Regions from separate parts of the Homo sapiens genome. Here region 1 is linked to region 2. Evidence: fine-mapped expression QTL. A gene starts in region 2. The other region holds a variant in brackets. All regions are shown on one strand. Distances are from middle to middle. Region 1 overlaps ACSM5 (acyl-CoA synthetase medium chain family member 5). Region 2 holds the start of REXO5 (RNA exonuclease 5).

Region 1 (8,332 bases), 370 kb before region 2:
AAGAATCCAGGAATTTGTTCAAATGCATAATATCACCACCACACAGAAATATTATGCAACTATTTAATACAATTTTTTTTTGGAAGCAGGGTCTCCTTCTGCCACCAAGGCTGGAGTGCAGTGGCACAATCATGGCCACTGCAGCTTTGACTTCCTGGGCTCAGCTGATCCTCCCACCTCAGCCTCCTGAGTAGCTGGAACTACAGGCACATGCCACCACACCTGGCTAATTTTTTTTTTTTTTTTTGTAAAGATGGGGTTTCACCATGTTGCCTAGGCTGGTTTTGAATTCCTGGGCTCAAGTGATCCACCTGCCTCAGCCCACCAAAATGCTATGATTACAGGCATGAGCCACCACTCCCAGCCTATAGGAGTTCTTAATATATTCTTGATATCGGTCCTTTGTTTGTTTTAAGAGTTGCTAACATCTTCCTCCTTGGTTGTAGCTTATCTTTTCACTTTCTTTCACTTTCTTTAAGCTATTTTTGTTGAACAGAAGCATTTATTTCCATGTCATCAAATCATTAAGTTTTTAAATGTTATGGATAGTGCTTTTTGTGTCTTATAAAATCATTTTCAACTTTAGGGTAGAAAATACACATATTCAATAGTTTCTTCCAATAGTTTTATAATTCTGCTTTTGACATTTAAGTTTATAATCCATCTGTGGTTGATGTATGCATGATATGAGATAGGGGTCTATTTTATTTTTTTCTATATGAAAAGCCAATTTGTTGAATAAATCCTCCTTTTCCCAGTTATCTGTCATGCTAATTTTGTCAGATATAAAAGTTTAATATAGGCCAGGTGTGGTTGCTCACGACTGTAATCCTAGCACTTTGGGAGGCCAAGGCTGGTGGATCACCTGAGGTCAGGAGTTCGAGACCAGCCTGACCAATATGGTGAAACACCCTCTCTACTAAAAATACAAAAATTAGCTGGGTGTGGTGGCGGGCACCTGTAGTCCCAGCTACTTGGGAGGCTGAGACAGGAGAATTGCTTGAACCCGGGAGGCAGAGGTTGCAGTGAGCTGAGATCACACCACTGCACTCCAGCCTGGGCAATAGAGTGGGACTCCATCTCAAATAAATAAATCATTTTTTAAAAGTTTGATATAGTCATACATAGGCTTTGGCACTTTCTTGTATTTCCTTGATCACTTACTCTGTCTCTGTACTGATACCATAAAGTCTTATCCACAAAAGCATTACCATAAGTCTTCACATGTGGGAGAACAACTCTAACCTTGTTATTCAACTCATTTAGAAGTGTTTTACCTATTCTTAGCCCTTTGCTCATTCATTTGTATTTTAGAATCAACTTGTCAAGTTCCTTGGAAAATGTTTGCTAGCATTTTGATTAGAATTGTATTGCCTATAAAACAACTTAGGGATAATTGACATCTCTATTAATTAAGTCTTTTTTGTTTTGTTTTGTTTTGAGGCAGAGTCTTGCTCTGTCACCCAGGCTGGAGTGCAGTGGTGTGATCTTGGCTCACTGCAGCCTCCGCCTCTCGGGTTCAAGTGATTCTCCTGCCTCAGCCTCCCAAGTAGCTGGGATTACAGGCGCCTGCCGCCACACCTGGCTAGTTTTTGTATTTTTAGTAGAGATGGGGTTTCTCCATGTTGGCCAGGCTGGTCTTGAACTTCTGACCTCAGGTGATCCACCTGCCTTGGCCTCCCGAAGTGCTGGGATTATAGGCATGAGCCACTGCACCAGGCCGATTAAGTCTTTCTTTCACTTTATTTATATCTTCTTTAATGTTGTGTAGAGTTTTAAGTTTTCTCCATACACATCTCAGAGATTTTGTGTTAGATGTATTTTTAGGGTAGCTTATATTTTTTCTTTTTTCTCAGAAGGTCCTTGTTGAATTGAGATATAATTTACCTACAGTAAAATTCACCCACGTTAAGTGTGTAAGTCAATGACTTTTAACACATGTCCGCCCCTGTGTAACTGCCACCACAGTCGAATAGGGAACATTTTTCACTCCCTTGACAGGCAATCCTCTCCACTCCAGACCCAGCGATTGATACATTGTTTGTCGTCAGTATATAATAATTTTGCATTTTTAAAAAAGAACTTCATGTAAATGGAATCACAAACTATTCCAGTTTATCTGTCTGGGTTCTTTTACTCAGTATGATGTTTCTGCAAGTCATCTGTGTGGTTTCATGTATTTTTATTGCTGAGTAGTAGCTTTTTCTTTGAAACTTTGAGAATCAGAGTTTCATTGTTTTTCTCTTTCCTCTACTCTTGCCCCACACCAATGAGCTTTTTGGTGAGCCCTTCTCCCACCCTCCCTTTCTTTCTTTCTTTCTTTTCTTTCCTTCCTTCCTTCCTTCTTTCCTTCTTTCTTCCTTCCTTTTTTCTTTCTTTCTTTTCTTTCTCTTTCTTTCTTTTTTCTTCATTCTTTCTTTCTTTTTCTTTCTTTCTCTTTCTTTCTCTTTTCCTTCATTCCTTCTTCTTCCTTCCTTCCTTTTCTCTTTCTTTCTTTCTTTTTCTCTTTCTTTCCTTCCTTCCTTTCTTTTCCTTCTTCCCTCCCTCCCTTCCTCCTTTCCTCCCTCCCTTTTCTTCTCTCTTTCTTTTCTTCCTTCTCTTCCCTTCTCTTCCCTTCCCTTCCCTCCCCACTCTCCTCTCCCCTCCCCTCCCGTCCCCTCCCCTCCCCTTCCTTTCCTTTGTTTCCTACTTGAAGTCTTGCCCTGTAGCCCAGGCTGCAGTGCAGTGGCACAATCTTGCAATCTCATCCTGTAGCCCAGGCTTGAGTGCAGTGGTGCAATCTCACAGCCTCGCCCTATAGCCCAGGCTGGAGTGCAGTGGCACAATCTCAGCTCACTGCAACCTCTGCCTCCCAGGTTTAAGCAATTCGCCTGCCTCAGCCTCCCGAGTAGCTGGAATTACAGGCATGCACCACCACACCCAGCTAATTTTTTTGTCTTTAGTAGAGACAGGTTTTCACTATGTTGGCCAGCTGGTCTCGAATTCCAGACCTCAAGTGATCCACCCACCTCAGCCTCCCACAGTGCTGGGATTATAGGGATGAGCCACCACACCCGGCCTAGCCCTTCACTTTCTACCCTCAGTGATTCCTGAGCACAAAGAGTATTCATGTGTTCTCTTGTCCTAAAAACCACAGCCAGTGGCCCTGTGCCCACCCTCCTGCTTTCAACTATGCTTTCTAGACCCCCTTCTAAGGATGGTGGTGGGTGACTGCCCTTAACCATTGGCTGGCAGCTTGATTCCAATCAAAAGAGGGAAATCCCACAACTAAACAGGGCCATAACTCCCTGTCCATTGGGGAACTCTGGGCAGCCGGGACTTTAGGAACTGCTGAACTTTCTGTTGAGTGGTCTCCAGCTTCCTACAGGGGGCTACTGGGGCAGTAACTGGCCTTAGCAGTTGTTCCCAGAGGGTCCTTCACGGGTTGTCTTTGTCTTTCAGGACAATCCTGAGAAGACAGCTGCATCAGAACAAGGGGACTTTTACATCACAGGGGACCGAGCTCGCATGGACAAGGATGGCTACTTTTGGTTCATGGGAAGAAACGACGATGTGATCAATTCTTCAAGGTCAAGCTGTCTGCACTTTCCTCCTTCCTTTGAAATTTCATGGGGGTTGAGGGAAGCCCACTTGGAAGAGTTTGTTTTTCCCTTCCAGCTACCGGATCGGGCCTGTTGAAGTGGAAAGTGCCCTGGCAGAGCATCCTGCTGTCCTGGA[G/A]TCGGCTGTGGTCAGCAGCCCAGACCCCATCAGGGGAGAGGTAACCAGTGCACCCAAGAACATGGCCTCCTGCTTCTGTACCTATTAGCACCCAGCAGAACAAGCAGGAAGGCTCAGATTGTCCTGTATTTCACCTCCATCCTTGTGCCACAAAGTTGAAATGCCACCATCAGACACACGTTGCCTTCATGTCTTTAGAGATACAATTACTCTCTAAAGGGACATAATGGGAAAACACCAACACTTTGCTTTTAAATGGACACAACTACATCCCAGAGAGGCTGGCTATGGGGCAGGAGATCTTGGGGGAGGTGCAGGCTCTGTTATCCATCCTGTCTAATAAAAAGTCTTTTCTATTTGCAGATGAGGACATAGCAAGCACACCAGTAATAGTTGCTGATGGCTGTAACCTAAGAGGGATAGAATATGTATCCAAAATGACCTACATATACCAGAAAGATGGGCCAAATTTAATAAGCTGGGCTTTCATAGGAGAAATCCTTTTTTTTTTTTGAGATGGAGTCTTGCTGTGTTGTCCAGGCTGAAGTGCAGTGGCATGATCTTGGCTCACTGCAACCTCCGCCTCCCAGGTTCAAGTGATCTTCCTGCCCCAGCACCCCCCCCAGTAGCTGGGATTACAGGCACATGTCACCACACCTGGCTAATTTTTGTATTTTTAGTAGAGACAGGGTTTTGCCTTGTTGGCCAGGCTGGAGGTCTTAAACTCCTGACCTTAGGTGATCCACCCACCCCGGCTCCCAAAGTGCTGGGATTACAGGCGTGAGTCACCGTGCCCGGCTAGGAGAAATCTTTCTGTGGGTCCCAGAGGAATGCATATTATGGGAAAGATCAGCTAACAGGCAGACTTAGGTACTTTTCACTGGCTTACATCCAACATAATCCTAAAGCACAACAGTTACCTTTTGAAAGTTAGTGCAACATTAGCCTGCATTCTCAGAAGCATCAAGACCACAGGAGAGATTCTCAAAGTCTGGTTCTTGGACTGCTTGCAACTGTATCATCTGAGATTCTTGTTTAAAATATAGATTTGTAGACCTAAAGTCAGACTTACCAAATCATGATTACTGGGAATGCAGCCCAGAGAATCTGCATTTTAGCCAGCCATTCTTGGCCAAGTGATTCCCCTCTAAAATCCAAAGCCATTAATGTATAATAAGGGAGGTGTGGAGTCCCATTGATGTGCTGAAGAAATCATACCTCAAACGTATGCCTAGTTCTGCATGCCGTGAGTTAACTGGGACTGTGACAAATGGCTGTGTGCTCAAACTTAATCCATGTATGGTGCTTAGAACTGAGTCTGGTGTGTAGAAAGTGCCCAACACATAAGCCGGACACGGTGGCTCATGTCTGTAATCCCAGCACTTTGGGAGGCCGAGGCGGGTGGATCACGAGGTCAGGAGATCGAGATCATCCTGGCTAACACAGTGAAACCCCATCTCTACTAAAAATACTAAAAATTAGCCAGGCGTGGCGGTGGGCGCCTATAATCCCAGCTACTCGGGAGGCTGAGGCAGGAGAATGGCGTGAACCCAGGAGGCAGAGCTTGCAGTGAGCCGAGATCACCTCACTGAGCTCCAGCCTGGGCGACAGGGTGAGACTCTGTCTTAAAAAAAAAAAAAAAAAAAAAAAAGTGTCCAACAAATGTTTCGTAGTTACAGTAGTAAGAGTAAGAGGAAGCTCTTTCTAAAAGCATATCTGTCTGAACATGAAATGATAGTGGCCTTCCTCCCTGTGGGAAGTATGCAAGGACAGTGAGCTACCCCTTTAATAGAATACTGTTAACAGATAGGAATGCTGGAATTAATAAGCATCCAAGTGACCTTCCATTCCTAACAGAAACTATGTTTGTTGTGCTTGAGTCTGGGACACTTCCTCCTGCCTGGCATAAGACAGCCTGCAGGAAAGTTGTGGGCAGAGAGACCCAAGATGCAGAATGTCCCTCGGGATGTCTGGAACAGAAGTGGTGCAGTTCAGGGTCTGCTGATTGCAAATGTTCATCCACGCAGACCCCCAAAGACCTAGTTCCCCTTGCAAGTGCCTGCATTTTCCTCAATCCCACCTGTTCAAACTCATGCCTACCTACCTTTCTCATTAGGAAAATCTGGAAGAAAATGGCCCTAGGAGTTTATGAACCTCTTTTCTCCAAAATATTTGCTTCTTAAGAGAAGCGATGTTGGCTTCAAATGGTGTCATTCCAAGTATGGGGAGTAATTTGAGAAAGAGGTAGGAGTTTGAAATCATCCCAGAAAGGTCAATCCTCCTAATAGTCACACCTGGAAGGGCCAGCAAAAGAAAAATTGATGTTGTTTGTGTCATTGGCTGTGCCCAAAAAAAACTAGTAGAACTTTCATGGTGCAAAGGTAAATGTAGGCACTTATTCAAGCCTCACTTAAGGAGAAAAGAGTTGTTATACGAGGCCTGATCTTTTCTGGGTATTTTGTTTTCCTGCAGGTGGTAAAGGCATTTATAGTCCTTACTCCAGCCTACTCCTCTCATGACCCAGAGGCACTAACGCGGGAACTCCAGGAGCATGTGAAAAGGGTGACTGCTCCATACAAATACCCCAGGAAGGTAAATATCAGGGTTTCCAGGGCACAGTGATCTGGGAATCAGATGGGCACGCTCTGCCTGGGCTCCCACTCAGAGCCAGGCCCTGTGCCAGGCACTGGGGATATGGAGAAACTTGTAACCCTGGCTGCTGCTTCAGCTTTTTTCTGTATTTCTTCACTTGGATTCTCCCCAAAGCACATTTTGTTCCTACTCTAAGAACAGCCTGATCCCTACCACAAATCAGATACAAGAGGTAGTGCTCAAATGCTGTCAAAATGATCCTGTGCTCCAGGCTCCAGCTGTTTTGCTTCTGGCCATTTAGGGGGAAACCCTGAATCAGGGACGCTTTCCAAGGACAGGCAGACAGTATTGTCTCTTTCAAAACAAAAGTCTTTTTGAGAAATGATGATTTCCAAGTGTTTTTTGTTTTGTGTTTGGTCACTAGGTGGCCTTTGTTTCAGAACTGCCAAAGACGGTTTCTGGAAAGATCCAAAGGAGTAAATTGCGAAGTCAGGAGTGGGGGAAATGAGGTGCACCCCAGGAAGGCCCCGTAGACCTCCGAAGACTCCACAAGAAACTAATGGATCACTGGTCAGTCCCCATGGGGAGCATCATCTCTTCGACCCTAAAGATGTCAAAGGTGTGCAGCTTCCAAACGGCATCCCCAGGATCACTGGGCAATGCTGGAAAGAGCAAAAGAATATCATTGGCCCTGATCACATAGATGCTGCGCCGCCTAGCAAATGCTTGGTGGTTCGACTTCTCCCTCTGTCTGGGGGCAGGCTCAGCATCTGCCCACTGGTCTCACTAAGAGCTTTCAGATTTCCCTCCATAGGACAGGTTACCATAGACTTGGGGCACTTGTGGGTACTCATTTTCTGCCAGTGGGAATGTAAAGGCTTCATCCTTTGTATGTAACCATTTGGCAAAAGTATGCAGGAACATAAAATAAAATATCCTTTAGCTCAGAAATTCTATCTTCGGGAGTCACCACAAAAGAAAAAAATCAAAATGCAGAAAATGTGTGGTGCACTAAGATGATCACACAGCATTAAAACTAAAAAAAAAAAAGAAAAAATTAACAATTAACATCCAAACAACAAGGAAATGATTAACAAAATTGTAGTAGATTAACTCAATTACATATGATGTAGCCACTAAAATATTTGAGAGCAGTTTAGTATGTCTTGGGAAAAGTGTAAGCTATATTAATTTTAAAAATCAGAGCAAAAATATTCATACTGGAGAATCCCAACTCTGAAAAATAAAGGGAAAACTGTGGTTAATTGTAATCCTCCTGGAGATTGAGGAGGGAGGGAGAGAAAATAATGGATGGTAGTTTTTCTTCTTCCTTTTTCCATTACATTTCTGTATTTTCCAAGTTTTTGTACGAAGCACATACAACTATTTTAATGAAAAAGTTATGTTAAAGAAAGCACACTCTGCTTCATGTCTAGTTCTTCCTCCACATACTCATACATCATCCCCAAAGACTGCTGTATTATGTCTGTATTAGTCAGCATTCTCCAGAGAAAGAGAAGCAATAGGACATATTTAGACACAGGAGAGGGGATTTATGATGGGAATTGGCTCACTCGATTTTGGAGGCTGAGAAGTTCCACAATCTGCCATCTGCATGCTGGAGACCCAGGAAACCCCGTGGTATAATTCCATCTGAGTCCAAAGACCTGAAAACCAGAAGAGCCAATGTTATAACTCCCTGTCCGAGTGCAAAGGATCGAGAACCAGGAGCTTCACCGTCTGAGGACAAGAAAACACAGATGTTCTAGCCCAAAAGGAAGGAGCAAATTCCTCTTTTCTCCTTTTTCTCCTCTTCATGCCCTAATGGATTGGATGATGCCTGCCCACGTGGGTGAGGGCAGATTTTCTTAGTCTATGGCTCTATCTCTAATATCACCTGGAAACACCTCCCAGAGACACCCAAAAGTAATGTTCACAGCTATCTGGGGACTCTTAACCCAGTCAAGTTGACACCTAACATTAACCGTCACAATGTCTTATCCAGGAGGGGCATAAAGACGTG
Region 2 (8,332 bases):
CAGGAGTTCGAGACCAGCCTGGCCAACATAGTGAAACCCTGTCTCTATTAAAAATATAAAAATTAGCCAGATGTGGTGGTGTGTACCTATAGTCCCAGTTACTCAGGAAGCTGAGGCATGAGAATCGCCTGAACCCAGGAAGCAGAGGTTGCAGTGAGCCCCGCCACCTTACTCCAGCCTGGCCAACAGAGCATGCCTTTGTCTGAAAAATAAATAAATAAATACATAAATCGAGTCCTGAATCTGGAATAACACTAATCTTATTTATTTATTTACTTATTTATTCATTTATTTTCAGAGACAAAGTCTGTCACCCAGGATAGACTGAGATTATACCTCCCTGCAGCCTCAAACTCCTGGGCTCAAGTGGTCCTCCCACCTCAGCCTCAGCCTCCCAAGAAGCTGGGACTACAGACACATGCCACCAAGTCAGGCTAATTTAAATTTTTTTTTTTTTTTTTTTTAGAGATGGGGTTCTCACTATGTTGTCTAGGTTGGTCTCAAACTCCTGGCCTCAAGCAATTCTCGAACATCAGCCTGCAAAGTGCTGGGATTACAGGCATAAGCCATCATGCCTAACACTAAATAAATCTAATTTCAAATGGTATAATAACTTTTATTTTCTTTTTGAAACTGACTTCTGAATTTTAAGATTTGCATCATACCTGCTTTATGCCTGTCAATTCCATGCAAAATTCTGAAAGAATTGGATGTTCCTGAGGTTGAACATAAGCCTGGAACTCAGAGTCAATCTGTCCAGTTGATGTGTTCAGCAACACTGCTGGAAACTCAACTAAATGAAAGAATAATCAATTGACAGTTGAATAAATAATTTTTAAATTAATCCTGTAATCATCCTAAATTAAACATGTTACCATTTTAATTAAACAACCAGTTTTCAGTAAAAGCATACTAAAATGACCAAAGCAGTGTGACATAAAGGTTATAATAAAGTTATGCTAAAGTCAAAATATTGAAGTTATGAGCATGTTGTCTTAAAAGAAAACAATATAATTAAATAAATATAAAAACCATATGGAATATAAAATTTACTTTTTTTGCAAAGGCATTTTTTTCAGTTTCTATGCCATTGAGGTGTTGTATGTAATATAAAACAACTATTTTATATAATAACACATTTAGGTATTTGAGATTTTGCTCTTTTTTATTCAACATAAGTTTTGCATTAAACTACCAATGCATAGACCATCCTGTTTTCTTAAACTTTTGGCTGATTCAGATCTATAAACTTTAAAGTGACTCATCTAGTGCCAGCTTTGGCCATTCGTAGCCCAGACTTACTTATTTCCTGGCTATGGTGGTGCTTCCCATCATTCCAGCATGTCGATTCAAAATCAATGACAATTAAGTAGTCAAACAACTGCTCTGCAAAAGATCAAGTTGTTCTTATGCTTTACCAGTGCTGAAAATGCAAGGCTACAAAATGCAAAGAAACTAAGCATACTACTCACTGGATTTGCTTCTTCCGAGATTTCCATTTGCTGGCGCAATTGACTTTCTCCTAATTAATCCAAGCTGCCTAAAAATGTGAAGCAATCCAAATATGATCAATGAACTCATTCACACTCCTGTTTGAGTAGGCTACCAAACTAATGGTACTGGGCAACAATCTCATTATTTATTGTGACTGAGGGGAAATCGAACTGGACTTTGGCTTTACCTGCACAGGCCTCGAAAGTACATATTTGCAAATTAGGCTAATTTGTTGGTTTTGTTTTTGAGACAGGGTCTTGCTCTGTCACGTAGGTTGCAGTGCAGTGGTATGATCACCACTCACTACAGCCTTAATCTCCTGGGCTCAAGCAATCCTCCCACCACAGTCTCCTGACTAAGACTACAGATGCATGCCACCACGGCCCATTAGTTTTAATTTTTTTTTTTTTTTGAAGGCAGGGCCTCACTATGTTACCCAGGCTCATCTCGAACTCCTGAGCTCCAGCAATCCTCCCACCTCAGCCCCTCAAAGTGCTGGGATTACAGGCCTGAGCCACTGTGTCCAGCCAATTTACACTAATTTTATGTTACCCTTGTTTTACAGTAATACTGAGTAACTCATTTGAGTTCCTACAATCATTTGATTGTAGAGGTAAAAATGCACTGAAAATCTTATTTTTCCCCCTGCATTTTTTAAGCTCTTGCTATGTGTACAGTGCAGTTTTAAGAAGACAAGACAATGTAGGACATGGTTCAGTCTTCCAGTTTAAAAATCTGGGTAAAGAAACAAAAGATAGGGCCAGGTAAAGTGGCTCATGCCTGTAATCCCAGCACTTTGGGAGGCCAAGGCAGGTGGATTGCTTGAGCTCCGGAGTTCGAGACCAGCCTGAGCAACATGGTGAAACCCCGTCTCTACAAAAATTATAAAACCTAGCTGGGGCGTGATGGTGCATACCTGTAGTCCCAACTACTCAGGAGGCTAAGGTGGGAGGATTGCTTGAGCCCGGGAGGTGGAGACTGCAGTGAGCCGAGATCATGCCACTGCACTCCAGCATGGGCAACAGAGCGAGACCCTGTCTCAAAAAAATAAATAAATAAAATAAAATAAGAAAAAAAGAGAAGAGCTTACTGAGGTCTTAAGTGCAAGTAAAACAAACTACTTGGTATTAGCAGGTAGAGTTTTAACTAGGCAGACACCTCCTGTAGTTTTCTGTGTTTGCTAAGAGTGGGAAGTGCCAGGATTTGGGAATAATAAATATCATTTATTGACTGCTTACTACATAGCAGGTACTAAAATTAAACTAAGATGATGGCCTCCTTTAATCCTCAACAAGTGTAGTAGCTAGAAACTTTTCCTACCTATATTTTATGGATGAGAAAACTGATTCTTAATTTGCCAAAGAACATAGCTTTGGTATGTGAACCCAAGACTGTCCAATTCTGAAGCTCATGCTATTTGCTATTATATTACATCTTTCTAGTAATCAGAAATATGCACAGCGCATCCAGGAATCAGGGAGGACACAATAATTCATATTGTGAATTAAAAGGATCACTAGGCCAGGCACCGTGGCTCACACCTGTAACCCCAGCACTTTGGGAGGTTGAGGCGGGTGGATCACCTGAGGTCGGGAGTTCGAGAACAGTCTGACCAACATAGAGAAACCCCATTTCTACTAAAAATACAAAATTAGCTGGGTGTGGTGGTGCATGCCTGTAATCCCAGCTACTTGGGAGGCTGAGGCAGGAGAATGACTTGAACCCGGGAGGCAGAGGTTATGGTAAGCCGAGATCGCACCACTGCACTCTAGCCTAGGCAACAAAACTCCGTCTCAAAAAAAAAAAAAAAGATCACTAGAAAATGGGTTTGTAAAAAGTAGAGGTTCCTCTTCAAAGACTTCCTTCCCCGTCTAATTAGGAATAAATAGTAACTTCTCTTAGAGCAAAATTTATTCAAAGACCTGTGCTAACATTCTTAAATATCTGCTAGATATAATAAAGAAATCAATGTACTTTATGTTCTTAGCTCCCACAATTTAGCCTAAATATTTGCCCTGGCATGCTTATACTGGTCCAATCAAACATTAGGTCATAGCCTGTTCCTCTTCCTTACTTAAAAGTGTTTTTACCTTTCTCAGCATTCCACAAGTTACTTCCTTCTTCCTTTGTTCTCCTCTGCCTTTGCCTCTTTTAAAAAGTTCTATGTTGCTAGTCAGTCGGGACAAATACAGAATGTGAGGTCCCGTTCCAGCCAAAGGAAACCGGACACAGCAGTAGGGTGGACGCGCCACGTTATAAATGACCCTGTCTCCTTTGTTCAGTGTACTCTCCTGGCAAAACTGCTGGCGAGTGTACCCTTTCTGCAGGAAGTAAAAATGGCCTTACTAAATAAATTAAATTTAAGTTTAAGTTCTATTTCTTTACAGCACCGAGGAACGAGCATTTCGAACAGGTTGAACACCTTGACAGATTCAGTGTGTGGCCTGCCTGAGACCTCCAACCAGTCTGCAGGGCACTGTCACGTCCAGTCGTTTCCCAAGGCCTAAAATAGGCAGGCACTGGCTCAAGGCCACACAGTCAAGGCCCCAGGGTTCGTCCGCCTCGGGCTCCTGTCACCCTCGGGTAGAAGGTGGCCCAAGGCTGAAGACCGAGGTCCAGGGAGGCGCCTTTCCAACCGTGCCAGAGAGGGCAGGTCGCAGACGCCGGGGCTGCGGGGAATAGAGGCCCTCACCGCAGATGCCACCTGCCGTGCCCTGCTCTGCGGCCAACGCCAGCGCTGGACCCGGAGCTACCCGCCCCCGACCCGGAACTCCCTCGAGTACCGCGCGAGCCGCTTGGTCGCCATTCCCGACACTCCTTGCTTTTCCAAGTCCAGCTGCCGGAAGTCGCTCGACTTCTACTTCCGGTCCGTTCAAAAAGCCCGCGAGGCTGAGGGGCGGTTGTTGTTGGCAGCTGTGGCTAAGGAGGGGAGAACCTCTGCTCCCCGCCCGTCTTCTCTTCTGCGTTTCCCGGGCTAGGGGGCGTGGGGAGTGGTTTTAGGCGGCGAAGCCGCTCGGCAGCACCTTCCTTCTTTGCCAGGCAGACGCCCGTTGTAGCCGTTGGGGAACCGTTGAGAATCCGGTAACCGATGCGGACGGTAAAGCCGTTTGGGTTAGAGCGGCGCGGGTGTCCAGTCCGCGGAACGGGGAGATCGTTGGCACCTTCGCTTTTTTAGGGGAACGGGGATAGTTCGGTAAACTGAATTGAGAAGCGGATCCGAGGGAGGTTGAAAGCTGTCAAGCCCGTGTAGCTCTCCCGCTAGGAGGCGGCACGCGGGGGAATAGGGGCGCTGGAGTTTCCCCAGCTCTACCTCATCTTTCTCCACAGCCATGGAGCCAGAGAGGGAAGGGACCGAGAGACACCCCAGGAAGGTCAGGGAAAGCAGGCAGGCCCCAAATAAGCTGGTCGGGGCAGCTGAGGCGATGAAAGCCGGTTGGGATCTCGAGGAGAGTCAGCCCGAGGCCAAGGTGAGCAACGGGGATCCCGAGCAGGCGGCCCTAGGCGGTTTGGAGCTCCCGGACCCTCGCCCAACCGCCGTCGGGGGCACTGGATTCGGGCGGGCTCTCCGCCCTGGCCTCTCCGAACCTGATCCCTGATCATTAAAATGGGAATGAGTGTAATACCACCTTCCTGCAACAAGGCTGTCATTGGCTGTCACTGGGATAGTGAGTCGGCCGAGTGCGGTGGCTCATGCCTGTAATTCCAGCACTTTGGGAGGCCGAGGCGGGCGGATCACGAGGTCAGGAGTTCGAGACCAGCCTTGTCAACATGGAGAAATCCCCGTCTCTACCAAAAACACACACACAAAATTAGCCAGGCGTGGTAGTGGGTGACTGTAATCCCACCTACTTGGGAGGCTGAGGCAGGAGAATCGCTAGAACCCAGGAACCAGAGGTTGCAATGAGCCAAGACCACGCCATTACACTCCACCCTGGACAACAAGAAAGAAATCACGTCTCAGAAAAAAAAAAAAAAAAAAAAAAACTGGGATGGTGGGCCGGGTGCAGTGGCTCACGCCTGTAATCCCAGCAGTTTGGGAGGCCAAGGCGGGAGCATCATTTGAGGCCAGGAATTCAAGACCAGCCTGGGCAATATAGCAAGGACCCCATCTCTTAAAAAAAAAAAACAAAAAACAAAACAAAAAAAAAACTGCCTGTACATAATAGGAATGTTCATCGATATCCTGGGGCACAAAAATACAATTCCTTGCCCTCGTGCAGTTTACATTCCAGTAGGGCGGGGGTCCCCAACCCCCTGTGCACAGACTAGTACCTGCCTGTCCATGGGGTCCCCAACCCACTGTCCACAGCTGGCCTGTTAGGAACCGGGCCACAAAGCAGCAGGAGGTGAGCGGTGGCCGATAGAACGTTACCCCCTGAGCTCCACCTAGGCATTAGATTCTCATAGGAATGTGCCAAACCTATTGTGAGCCCTATTGTGAACTTTGCATACGAGGGTCCTAGGTGGCATGCTGCTTATGAGACTCTAATGATAAATGTAATGCACTTGAATCACCCCGAAACCATCCCCCCAGCCCTTCTCCCAGTCAGTGGAAAGATTATCTAACACGAAACCGGTCCCTGGTGCCAACGGTTGGGGACCGCTGCAATAGGGGAATAAAAAGGCTGATTATCCCTATCATCCTTACCATTTACTGAGAACTAAATATACTTCATTCATCCCTTCAGTCGTTCATTGGGCTTTTTTGTTTGTTTTTGTGTTTGAGACAGGGTCTCTGCTCTGCTGGACTCAGGCTGGACTACAGTGGTGTGACAAGGATCCTCCTGTCTCTGCCTCTTACAGGCATGAGCCACTGCACCCAGCTATTCATTGGTTTTTATTGTCTGCCATGTGCTGGGGCACTGACCTAGGTGCTTGGGGTACATCAGTGAATCAAGTTCACTGCCCTAGTAGGTCTTATATTCTAGTGGGCAGAGACAAATGATAAAAATAAGTTATAATATGTGAGAGAGGGATTAGGGATGTGATTTTTTTTTTTTTTTTTTTTTTTGAGGTGGAGTCTCCCTCTGTTGCCCAGGCTGGATTTGGCTCACTGCAACTTTTGCCTCCCAGGTTGAAGTGATCCTCCCACCTCAGTTCCACCAATTAGATGGGACTACAGATGTGTGCCACTGTGCCAGCTAATTTTTCTTTTTTTTGTAGAGACGGGGTTTTGCCATGTTGCCCAGGCTGGTCTTGAACTCCTGGACTTAAGCGATCTGTCCACCTTGGCCTCTGCAAGTTCTGGGATTACAGGCATGAGCCACTGCTTTTTTTTGTTTTTTTTTCGTTTGTTTTTTTTTAAAGAGAGACAGGGTCTCCAACTCCTGGGATCAGGAGATTCACCTGCCTCAGCCTCCCATAGTGCTGGGGATTACATGTGTGAGCCACTGCACCCAGCTGAAAATTTTTTTTATTAAAGTGGGATTCCAGTTTTTTTGCCTATCAAATTTGCAAAAAAATGTTTAATGTTTATGTGGTTAGTGTAAGGAGATTGACAATCACATATTTTGTTATGTTGAAACAATCTCAAACTTTTAGAAAAGTTGTAAGAATAGTATCAAAACCTCCCCTCAACCAACATTTGAAAGTAGTTGCTGACACAATGGTCTTTTTCTACCCACCCTCAAGATATTTTATTATATATTCTCTATAAACCTACATAATCACAATGCAACCATCAAAATTGGAAATTACCATGGATATATCATGACCATCTACTCCTCAGATGCCATCCAAATTTTCTGTAGTTGTTTGAATAACGCTTTTTAGCAATAAGATCCAGTCTAGAATTGTGTTAAATTTAATTGTCATGTCTCCATCAAACAGTTCCTTAGTCTTCCCTTGATATTCATGACTTTACTGCATTTGAATAATCCTGGGCCAATTATTTTGTTGAATGTCCCTTAAATTAGATTTGTCTGTTTCTTCATTGATTAGATTCAGGTTATATACATCTTTAGCAGGAATATCACAGGAGTGATACTCTGCTCCCTTGCAGATTGTACACAATTTGATTTGTCCCATTATTGGTGATATTAACCTTGATAACTAGATTAAGATAGTTTCTACTAAAGTTCTCTAAAGTTATCTTTTTCTCTGTGTAATTTTCATTCTTATTTTTTTGAGACAGGATCTTGCTATATTGCCCAGGCTAGTCTGGAATTCCTGGGCTAAAGCAATCCTCCCACCTCAGCCTCAGTGTAGCTGAGGTTACAGGCCCAAGCCACTGCTCCCAGCTGTCTGTAATGTGCTTCCTCAAACACTTTGGGCTTATGCATTTACTTTTTTATCAGTATGATGAACTCAGTGGTACCTATTTTGTTCAGTGTGTTACTATCTTTTACTGGATTGTGATGCTTTAAATATCCAAGATTTTGTCATTAAGCTAGCTTCTGTGGCCTTTTGACATGACAACATCATTCTTTGAGCATGTCATTACTTTCTGGCACAAGAAGATATTCCAGGCTCATATGTGCTTTCCCTGCCCCAAGCCTGGAATCAGTCATTTCTCTTAGGGTACCTGGTTCTTTTTAGTGTAGAATGATATTTAGATTTGGGTGCTATGGTGATGTTAATACAGATGCTTCTTCACTTAAAATAAGATTACGTCCCAATAAATCCATCGTAAATTGAAAATTTTGTAAGTTGAAAGTGTATACACACACACATACTTACATTTAAATATTTTTCTGTATTTTACTTATGTGAATTCACATCAGTATCTCCACTTTAATCCAAATCCAGTAATACAGGGTTCATTCTATTCATTCTAGTTTTCTCCTTTTTTTTTTTCTTTTGAGACAAAAGTCTTGCCCTGTCACCCAGGCTGGAGTGC

What was found. PIP is the estimated chance that this variant, and not a neighbour inherited with it, causes the effect.
Region 1: its variant is fine-mapped to the expression of REXO5 in T cells (TOPMed, PIP 0.93).

Annotation. Positions count from the first base shown.
Region 1 is chr16:20,433,611-20,441,942 of GRCh38, forward strand. ACSM5 (acyl-CoA synthetase medium chain family member 5) reads left to right here. Exons shown (of 14, transcript NM_017888.3): 11 at 3,442-3,569; 12 at 3,658-3,757; 13 at 6,190-6,309; 14 at 6,734-7,726. The coding sequence ends at 6,817. LOC105371119 (a long non-coding RNA gene) reads right to left here. Exons shown (of 4, transcript XR_007065019.1): 4 at 7,783-7,976. Among named protein-coding and RNA genes, the nearest start is that of ACSM2A, 14 kb to the right of the region's middle. The variant G/A (reference allele first, on the strand shown) is at 3,718.
Region 2 is chr16:20,802,131-20,810,462 of GRCh38, forward strand. It overlaps REXO5 (RNA exonuclease 5), which reads left to right and starts at 4,397. Exons shown (of 20, transcript NM_030941.3): 1 at 4,397-4,575; 2 at 4,822-4,961. The coding sequence starts at 4,824. ERI2 (ERI1 exoribonuclease family member 2) reads right to left here and starts at 4,342. Exons shown (of 9, transcript NM_001142725.2): 1 at 4,278-4,342; 2 at 1,473-1,540; 3 at 1,303-1,386; 4 at 666-793. The coding sequence starts at 4,300. RefSeq lists enhancers at 3,538-4,483, 4,232-4,341, 5,062-5,201.